Homo sapiens: one gene and its partners. The protein of the gene in region 1 interacts with the protein of each later gene in a biochemical or structural test. Each region holds a gene or a part of one and is shown on either strand. Other genes may lie near its edges.

Region 1 (3,656 bases):
CTATTTGAATGTGACCGTAGAAGCTTAATTTTCATTTTTTTTTTTTAATGAACGAATATATTTTTTCAGAATCATTGCTTTTTTAATTTTCATTTTTAATAATTTTCCCTACCAGAGAGCGTAGGCTTATATATGATTTATCTTTCTATCCTAGAAAGACACTCAATGACTTCTGTGGTAGGCATTCACATCTGTTGGACCAAGTTGAATTACACTTCTTATACTGTAGGATTGAAACCATGGCTAATTTATTAGCAGTGTCCCTTTGAACAAATTACATCTTGGGGGCTCAGCTTTCTCTTCTCCAACCTGGATGATAAAAAATATTGCTAATGAGCATGAGCATGTACAGTGGACCCTTGGACATCATGGGTTTGAATGGTGTGGATCCACTTTTGTGTGAATTTCTTTCTTCCTTTTTTTTGAGACAGGGTCTTGCTCTGATGCCCAGGCTGGGGAACAGCGGTGTGATCATAGCTCATTGCACCCTTGACTGCCTGGGCTCAACTGAGCCTCCCATCTCAGCCTCCTAAATAGCTAAGACCACAGGTGCATGCCACCATGCCTGGCTAATTTTTCTATTTTTTGTATAGATGAGATCTCACTATGTTGCCCAGGCTGGTCTCAAACTCCTGGGCTCAAGCAGTCCTCCCTCCTCAGCCTCCCAAAATGCTGAGATTACAGGCATGTGCCATTGTACCTGGCCAGGATTTTTTTTCAATAAATACACTGGAAAATGCTTTGGAGATTTGCAACAATTAAGACAAACTTGCAGATGAATGTGTTACTTAGAAATATTGAGAAAATTTAGAAAAAATTAGGCATGTCATGAATGGATAAAATATATGTAGATACTAGTCTAGTCTATTATTTACTATCATAAAATACATATAAATCTACTATGAAAAGTTAAAATTGATGAGACTTAAACAAATATAGACCATACATGGGCCTATTTGCAGTTGAGAGAAATGTAAAGGTGAAGTATTAAATCATAATTGTATAAAATTAACTGTAGTCCATACTGTACTACTCTAATAATTTCATAGCCACCTCCTATTATTGTGGTGAACTCAAGTGTTGTGAGCATCCGTTTAAAATGCTCTGTGATACTAATCATCCTCACCATCTCTCCAGTAAATTGCATAGTGCAGTAAAAAGTGATCTCTTGCAGTTTCACATTTAAAAAAAATCATGTTTAGTGCAATACTGTAAACCTTGAATAACATCATGCACCCATACAAAGTGCCACCAGTGATGCTAGCAGTGCTCCCAAAAAGCAAAAAAAAGTCACGACATTTCAAGAAAAAGTTGAATTGCTTAATGTGTACTGAAGATTTCAGACTGATGATTCATCTTGTAAACAAATGATATAAACTGATGGTATCAATAAATACAGCATAGTATTATAAATGTATTTTATCTTCCTTATGATTTTCTTAATAACATTTTCTTTTCTCCAGCTTACTTTATCATACGAATACAGTAAATAATACATAAAACATAGATGTTAATGGACTTTTTATGTCATTAAGGCTTCCAGTCAACAGTAGGCTACTAGTAGTTAAATTTTGGGGGAGTCAAAAAATTTTCAGCTGCATGGGGGTTGACACCCTAAATCTCCATGTTGTTCAAGGGTCAACTGTACTTTGTTCCACTCATTAAACTTTGACAACATCAAGATTAACAATATCAACTATAAAGTGTGTACTATTATTAGCTCACTTTTCCAAATGAGAAAAGCAGTCAGAAACGATCTGGGGAATTTGTCTGAAGTCTTAGTACTAATAAATGGAGAAACCAGAGTCTGAATGCTAGCAACCTGGAGTCAGAGTCCACACTATTCATCACTTACTATTCAATTTGCTGAGATCAAATGAGTTTATACACATAATGTGCTTGGAATAATGTTTTGCAAAACGAAGGGCTCATTAGTTTATCTTGCAATTATTGTTACCGTATGAGAACTTGGCTTGCTTCTGGGATGCTTAATAGTTTTTAAGTTGCATTTCTGAAGATTCATTTCTATGAGTTTAATAACTGTCTTTTCTTTAACAGATGCACATTTACTATGATTTTGTAACTGGCTGGCTTTAATCTCTTGGTTGATCTCTTTACTGCTTGGGTTATGTTTGCTGTATATGCAGCATGAAACCTAGGGCTGCTACCAGCATAAATCTTTAAATTCCAGAAAATGAATGATTCCCATCACCACTGAGAAAAATGCATCAGCAACCAGAGGTGAAGACAACGATTCTATGGAGGCTTTTCTTTTGTCCTTCCCTGACTGGTAATGCTGTCTATCCTTCTACAGCCTGGGAAGAAGAGGAGGAGGCTGCCAGGCAGTGTGGGGAAACCAAACTGTTTTTCTCTCAACCAGTATCACTCAATGATTACCAGCTTTGTACCTATTGTGGTGCTGTACTTCCCAATTTTTATTGAGCTGAGTCTTCTGTATTCAGTTCATATCGTGAATTCTCAGGACATTAGAATTATCCATGTTCAAATAGAAATTTGCAAAGTTAAAACAAACATATTTCCAGATTAATCATAACTTTGAATACCTGGCAATGGTTCTCTGTCATCTGTTTGGATAATTGACACTTGTCTTTTAAAATCAGTATTTACATAGTAAGATAGGGCATTGATTTTGATTGTTTTGAACTACAGACTCACATTTTTGACCTCAGGTTTCTCAATTGGAAAATGGATAATCTCACCAATTTTACTTGGTTCTTAAGCCCTCCCTTTCCAGCTACAAATGGTATCAGAAATAATGACACTTCAGTGCAAAGGAAAGTTACAGGATCAGAGCAATGTGAAATGTTCCTGTAGATTGAATTATTATGTTGCCAGACTAAATGCTCTGAAAAGCTCAAATGAGAAAAATAATTCATTTTAAAATGATGGCATTCCTGAGCGCAAACATTCTAGGATCTCCTGTACAAGAATGCACTGAGGGGCCTTCACCTGGGGATATTTGAAGTAGAGCATGAGGTTACTCTGTATATCCTTAAAGGATCTGGGAGGAGCTGAAACAGACTTATGTTCAATGAGCATCTGTGATTTCCACCTAACTTACTTCTGAAGCATATGAAAATTCCACCCCATGCAATATTTGACACAGAAAGTACTGCCCCTTTATTATATAAAAGAATTAGCTTCTTTTAAAAAAAAAAAAAAGTCTGGAATCTCCTTGTAGATGTCTTCCTGGTATTTGGAGAATGCCCCTATGATCACCCTACTTATATGCTGTAGGACTTTATTTATGATGGCTGTCCCATTCCAATTTTTATATTTCTATTTAGAAAATTCTAAATTTGCTGGAGTGCCCAACATATGTTACATGTTTGTCCTTGTGAGAAGGCCAGGATGACCACCAAAGAGCCAGTAAAAGTTTAGAAGGAGCTGTTCAGCCCATCTTCTGAACGCTCCGGGAATCTCTTCAACTTCAGACCATGCCAGGTGACTTTTAGAACCCAGTTCATACTTCCAGCCTGTTCTGATCCTAGGTTTGAACAGTTCTCTTACTATCCTTCAGGTGAGGCAATCAGGTCACAGAGCTGGTGAATGGCAAAACCCTGTTAGAACTCAAAGTCTTAGCTCTCAAATGCTGTGTTTTCTCACTGATAGAAGAATGTGAGGACTGCTAAAGA
Region 2 (3,656 bases), on another chromosome or scaffold:
TACTGGATTATCCAGGTGGGCTCAAGGTAATCACAAGGATCCTTATCAAAGGCAGGTAGGGGCTACATGGTGGCTCATGCCTGTCATCCCAGTACTTTGGGAGGCCAAGGGAGGAGGATCACTTGAGGCCAGGAGTTTGAGACAAACCTGGGCAACACAGCAAGACCACATCTCTACAAAAAATTTAAAAAATTAGCCAGACATGGTGGCACATGCCTGTAGTCCTAACTACTCAGGAGGCTGAGGTGGGAGGATTCCTTGAGCCCAGGTGTAGGAGGCTGCAGTGAGCTATGATTGTGCCACTGCACTGCAGCCTGGGTGACAGAGTGTGACCTTGTCTCAAAAAAAAGGAAGGTAGAAAGGTCAGAAAGAGATTGGAAGATGCTACATGTCTGGCTTTGTAGCCACAAAGTCTATCTAAATAGACTAAATAGATAGACTTTGTCCTACAAAGTCAGATGTCTAGCCCCTACCTAAATAGACTTTGTAGGCAGAATCTACTTAGATAGGAAGAGGGAAACTAGAGAAAAATAAACAGAAAATGTCCTATCCTGTTCTCAGCCCTGTATGATTTTTTAAAACAGGAGTACAGCTTGTCTCACACATAGCATAAACCTTAGAACTCTGTGTATTAAGATGGCCTTGCTGTGTAATGTTTTCAACAGATACTCTTTTGCAGATGGTTTCAAAGACTGGCACAGCCATGATGGCTATTAGATGAATTAATTTAAAGATACCCATGACCAAGTTTTGGGGCTTGGGGGCCTTATTTGAAAATTTCATTAAAATTCTTAATTGCTTACAGTTATATTTCATCTTAAGTCAGTGTAATTTGGTTTAGATGTGCAACTGGCGTTTTTTCCATGGGTGTCTTTGATACATCTCCAGGAACTTTGCTTTCAGAGAACTATCCACACTTGGACTCATATAATAATGCATTCTCCTTTCCTTTTCTCTGTCTCTTTTTTTTAAGATGGGGTCTCACTATGTTGCCCAGGCAGGATTCAAACTCCTGGGCTCACAGGATCCTCCCGTCTCAACCTCCCAAGTATCTGGGATTACAGGCATGAGCTACGGCACCTGACTCCTTTCCTTTTCTCTTAATAGCATGTTCTTTATAATTTCCATTGAATTTAATTAATTTTTATTGCTTTCCTAATTCTCCTATAAAAATTTTATCTTCCTGCTAATCCCTTTTCCCTGTTTTTCAGTGTTTATCACAATGTGTAAAAATGGAACTATTTATATGTTTATTTCTCTAAGGCTTGTTTCCTTTTCTAGCTTGTAAACTCCAGGACAGTAGGGATAACGTCTGTTCAACACTCTATACCCACAGCCTAGCACACAGTGGTCACTTATCAAGCACTGCCCAATAAATAGACAGATAAATTTGCTTTCGAAGAAAAAACCAATCAAAATTTATAGTAATGTAGACATTTGATCTCCCCTGCATAACGTTACCTTTAGATCAGCAAAAGGTTTTGTGAAAGCTCACAGAGTACAAAAGATGAGCAATTTAAACCTCAGACTAAATGCATGTGATTACAAGTTAGACTTGTTACCGCATATGAAATTTTACCTTTCTGTGATACAGAATTTTTGTTTTGAAGTTTGAAAAGGGATTAACTCTTGCTAAGAAGAAGGTGAAAGATTTTGTTACACTAGAAAGCCAGAACGCACCACCCCACCACCCCCAATACCAGCAAAGAAAAAAAAAATCTCTAAAGCAAACCTTTCTGGAAACTGTAGGAAATAAGATTAATAAAGCATAAGTGCAGTGAATGTACCAAAACTCTGTTAATAGCATTTTTCTCACTGATTTCTAAAAAACAAACAAAAAAGAGATAATTATTTGATCCTATAGGCTTTGTCTATTGTTACAGATCGATCATATCTTTTTTTTTAAAATAAGCTATTCACTATATTTTTTCTTGCTTTCTAAATCTTGTCTCACTGAATGTATTAGAATGAGGGAGAAACAAATAGAACAAACCAAAGTTATGGAGAAAGTATGTGTGTGAACTTTATTTCATCATGAGAAAATTACTTCTGTGCAGTAACAGAGAATACTGATATCTATATGATGATAGGCTTTTCTTTGTATTCAGATACATACCTTATATTTGTACACAATATATAAAATTCATGGAGGAAATTAATTTCTACAGTACAGTTTCTTTGTTGGAAGAGAACTTGTTCCGTTTGTTTCATCTAGAAAATGACCCCCAGTTCTGTGACTGTGGTACCAAGGATCGCAGTTCCAATCCTGTAATTTATTAAATTAGACACCATAATCTTATGAACATTAAAATAAACTGAGGCGCTACATCCTCCTGCAGGATGAAACGAGAGACATAAGTGCTCAGGCTGTTATGCTAATAACTGATTTTTACCAGAATAGTATGATTCCCATGATGTATTATGAATAGAAATAGTTTTCCCGCAGATCTGATAACACATATTAGCAACATTGCTACAAATTTCTCTCTGCTCTGCAGGCATGCACTTCACTCTTCAATCAAACCACCTTGTACACACATGGGAAATGAGGCCATCACCAGCAAGGGCCTTCTGCGTTGCATCTAGGAAAGACTCTTGGAGGGCTTTAGCAGTTAGTATGGTATTTTGAGAAAAGAGGCAACTGCTCTCAAACTGATAGGTCATCCCTGAGAGAAGGTGCTAAAATGATAATTCTGGGGGAAGCTGTAGCTACCACATCACTGTACTCCAAATGGGAACAGGTCATGTGGGCATTTTCCCTCAGCATATCCTTCTCTTGGAATAGCATCACTTAGACTGACAACTGCTCCCCAAAGCACTGTTTTCACGGCTAGGGGCCTTTCATCCTTGCTGTAGGATTCAAAATTGTGCTTGTTTTTAACCATGTGAAGCATTTTAGGGTGACTGGCACATGTTGAGGTTTGTGGGAAGTGGGAAAAAAAACACCACCATAGTTCTTTTAGCTAACATCTTGAACTTGAACAAAATCAACATAATTAGTTCTGCAGAGGGAAGTTATGGAGAATCCCGGTGAGGTGGGGGGGTGATTTCTTTGATTAAAATGACACCCCAAAGTGTCAGAATGCTTTGGCACCAGCCACAAATACCTCCTTGTAGGTTTAATTTCATGTGTCTTGCTTACTCTTAAAATGAAAATGTTAAAAGCCTCAGAGGTTATATCTGGCCATCAAATTCAAGCCTCTCATCTGAGACACATTACTTGTCTTTGATGACCAAAATATTTAAAGTATAGCTAAGAAGCAAAAATTCTCTAGAGATGAACCTTGTATGGTGGCTCTCGGTAGCCTAGCCAAGACTGAAGGGACTGGCAAAGATGAAAATGGCGGGTAATGCGAAGTTGCTGGTCTCTTCCTGTTTGGTGCCCACAGGAAGTCTCAATCCTGGTGCTGACGGCCTCCGCTTTGGGTATGAAACGGAGGCAGTCTAAGTGGGTAAGCCAGGAGCAGCCAACAGGCCCTCTCTAAACAGCTCTAGCACCCCACCACCCATTTGAAACACATTCAGTCATACAAATCCACGACTGGAAAGAACCTAGGTCCCACCCTCAGAACAAGCAAGTACTACAGAGTAATTTAGAATCATCTGGGCAAAACTGGCACATGATGTGTATCGGTGGAGAATGGGAGCCTGCTCTA
Region 3 (3,656 bases), on another chromosome or scaffold:
GTGATTTGTTTAAGGTTTTACAAGTAATAAATGACAGTTCTGAGATTTGAATCCAGCAGTCTCTCTCCAGATTTTATTCTCTTAATCACTAGACTTTGCTGCCTCTCTATAATAGAACACAACATGTGAGGTAGCACCAAGGTCCTCCAAAATGCTCAGAGATGGTCAAGGAAGCATGGACCCTGCACGACACAGTTAGGCAGGGCAGGGTTTAAATCACGCTTGCTGTGTGGCCTTGGGAACATATCTTGACCACTCTGAACCTTACATTTCCCATTTTCCAAGTAGGAAAAATCAGTTCTTCCCTCTTACAGTAGTTTGAAGGAATGCAGAAGGTAAATCACATGTGGAAGATAATAACAAACATATCTTGAGGGGTGATTACATACCAAATAGCTCAGTACTTTATAGAGATCAGGTTATTTAAGCCTGCCAGGCACTACATGAGGTTGGCAACATATTTATCCCTGTTTTCCACAAAAGAAAACTGAGGTCTGTATACCCATAGTTACCTGCTCAAAGTCCATAGCTGGTAGGTGGTAGAGTCAGGATTTAAGTCTGGGAAGCCTGGCTTCAGAGCCCATGGTCTTTACTATGATGCTATCACACCTCAACGCTTCCCAATAAATGGTAGTTCAAATGTGAATTTTTATTAGAATAATAAATCCTATTGCTGCCACTATGTGCGTCCAACACCATCAACAAGATAGCTAACACATTCTGAATGCCACATATGTGCTGATATGCCTTGCAGAGAAACCCAAGTACAGAATTGTTCTTACAATCAAAGGTTTTAGGCTTCTTCAGTAATTGGTACCAGGAGTGGGGTTTTTCAGAAATGACCTTCAAGGAATGGGAATTTGTTTTGAAATGGACTTCTGGGTGTTGACAAAGTGAAAGACAGGGAAAATCCCTACTCCTGACAGACAGTGGGTTATGGTGGGGAAGCAGGTAGCTAGGCCATTGCCGGCAAGGACAGCTGAGTGGAATGGCTGTGTCCAGTTATATTAGGGGACACACAGCAGGAAGGGGTTGCCTTCTGGTCCTGTACTGCTTAGTGAAGCTACAGTGGTGTGTGACATTAATCCTTATGACATTATATAACTTTGGAATGACTTATCCCATTTTACAGATGAGAAAACAGGCTCTGAGAGAGAGGAAGTGGCCCTGCAGGGACATATACCAGGCACTGGCAGAAGAACTCTGGGTTTCCTTCCCCCCTCCCTCTTGGGGTGCTTTTTTTTTTTTTTTTTTTTTTTTTTTTTGAGGCAGAGTCTTGCTCTATCATCCAGGCTGGAGTGCAGTGGCATGATCTCGGTTCACTGAAGCCTCCACCTCCCAGGTTCAAGCACTTCCTGTGCCTGAGCCTCCTGAGTAGCTGGAACAACAAGTGGGCACCAGCATGCCTGGCTAATTTTTGTATTTTTGGAATAGACGGAGTTTTGTTATGTTGGCCAGGCTGGTCTTGAACTCCTGGCCTCAGATCCATCCACCTCGGCTTCCCAAAGTACTGGGATTACAGGCATGCACCACCATGCCTGGCCAGAGTGCTCCTTCTCTTTTTTTTTGAGACAGAGTCTCGCTGTGTCACCCAGGCTGGAGTGCAGTGATGTGATCTCTGCGGAGTGCAGTGGTGTGATCTTGGCTCACTGCAAGCTCCACCTCCTGGGTTGATGCCGTTCTCCTGCCTCAGCCTCCCAAGTAGCTGGGACTACAGGCGCCTGCCACCATGCCCAGCTAATTTTTTGTTTTTGTATTTTTAGTAGAGATAGGGTTTTACCATGGATGGTCTTGATCTCCTGACCTTGTGATCCGCCCACCTCAGCCTCCCAAAGTGCTGGGATTACAGGTGTGAGCCACCACACCTGGCCCAGAGTGCTCCTTTTTAAGTGACCAACACTCACTGAGCATTCTGGGTGGCCTGTTAGAAACCAGAGGCAAGGACTTTATGAGCCTCCTGAACACAGGTTGAGTTGAGAAAACAGGGTCATTGTGGAGAAAAATTAAACAGATGCTTTCCCCTACCGCCAGCCTGATTCAGACCCTGTCCAACTCAAAACATGAATCCCACAAACCCTGACAGATTCCCCATTCCTGTCTGCACAGACTGGGGAGTTATTTGGGCGTGGAGAGGTGGTGTAGTTGCGCAGTAGAAGATTCACCTTGCCCAGAGAAAGGTTTGGCCCTTGATCAGCTCCCGGGAGGGAACCTCTAAGCCCATGGAATGTCCTGCCTGATTAGAGTGTCTTTGTTTACCTGGGGCCTTGGATCATGTGGCATAGTCTATGTTAACACTGTGATATATGCTGGAGGCCTCCAGCTCAGCCTCTGGAGGAGCTGGAGACTAAAGTCAGCCACACCAGCAATCAGTCACGTATATGAGGCCGACCCCCAATAAAAACCCTGCCCACCAAGGCTCAGGTGAGCTTTCCTGGTTCGTAATAGACTGTGCATGCTGTCACATGTCGTTGCTGGGAAAATTAAGCACTGTCCATGTGACTCCACTGGGAGAGGATGACTGGAAGCTCACACCTGGTCTGTCCTGGACTCTGCCCTGGGTGCCTCTTCCCTTTGCTGACTTCAGTCTGTATCCTTTCACTGTCATAAACCATAACCATGAGTATAACAGTTTCCAGCCAGGCGTGGTGGCTCATGCCTGTAATCCCAGCACTTTGGGAGGCTGGGGCGGGTGGATCACTTGAGGTCAGGAGTTCGAGACCAGCCTGGCGAACAGGATGAAACCCTGTCTCTACTGAAAATACAAAAAATTAACTGGGCGTGGTGGCAGACGCCTGTAATCCTAGCTACTCTGGAGGCTGAGGCAGGAGAATCACTTGAACCTGGGAGGTGGAGGATGCAGTGAGCCGAGATCCCACCATTAATTACACTCCAGCCTGGGCAACAAGAGTGAAACTCCATCTCAAAAACAAACAGACAGACAAACAAAAACAGTTTCCTGAGTTCTGTGAGTCAATGATTCTAGCAAATCATTGAACCTGAGGGTGGTCATGGGCACCTCCAGACTACAGTGCTGTACTAGACTATGCAGGATTCAGTTCTGCCTCTGCTACCATTGAGCCTCTGGGCAAGTGACTGCTGCTCTCTCGGCCTTATCCCTCATGACTGTCACCTGGACATCCTGCACATGAGGTGCCAGACCCTGCCCTGGTGCTCAGCAAGTGTGACTGTGGTTGTAATCACTCAGCACATGCTTCCTCTGGTCACCGTTTCCTCATCTGGACAATGGCACTCATAATGTTTCCTCATTCCCAGAACCCTGCTGCTTTCTAGCTGTGTGACCTTGGACAGGTCACTTCACCCTTCTCAGCCTCAGTTTCCTCTGTTGAAAATGGGGATTATATGTTCCACAAAGGGTCACTGTGAGTAATCATTGAGATGTGCAGAGGACCTCGCATGCTGCCTGGACCACAGTTGGTGCTCAGTAAGTGAATCCCAGCATTGTTCTAAGTTCTTCGTAGGTGTTATATCATTTAAGTCTTTCATCTGCTCTATGAAGCATCCCTTTTATTATCCCCATTTTCCAGATGAGGAGACTGAGTCCCAGAAGAAGAGTCACTTACCTACAGCCATGCAGTTATTAATAAAGTGAGGGAGATGGGACTTGAACCCAAACAAGTCAGTCTGACTCAAGAGCC

What was found.
Region 2: the proteins of SNAP25 (region 1) and TRIM9 form a complex in vitro, tested with the Homo sapiens proteins (one study listed by BioGRID).
Region 3: the proteins of SNAP25 (region 1) and SYT3 form a complex in vitro, tested with the Homo sapiens proteins (one study listed by BioGRID).

Annotation. Positions count from the first base shown.
Region 1 is NC_000020.11:10,302,310-10,305,965, reverse strand, and holds part of SNAP25 (synaptosomal-associated protein 25), read right to left. Parts: intron 1-3,656.
Region 2 is NC_000014.9:50,994,066-50,997,721, forward strand, and holds part of TRIM9 (E3 ubiquitin-protein ligase TRIM9), read right to left. Parts: exon of another isoform or gene 1,999-3,656; intron 1-1,998. UniProt on the Homo sapiens protein: E3 ubiquitin-protein ligase which ubiquitinates itself in cooperation with an E2 enzyme UBE2D2/UBC4 and serves as a targeting signal for proteasomal degradation.
Region 3 is NC_000019.10:50,633,337-50,636,992, forward strand, and holds part of SYT3 (synaptotagmin-3), read right to left. Parts: intron 1-3,656. UniProt on the Homo sapiens protein: Ca(2+) sensor involved in Ca(2+)-dependent exocytosis of secretory vesicles through Ca(2+) and phospholipid binding to the C2 domain.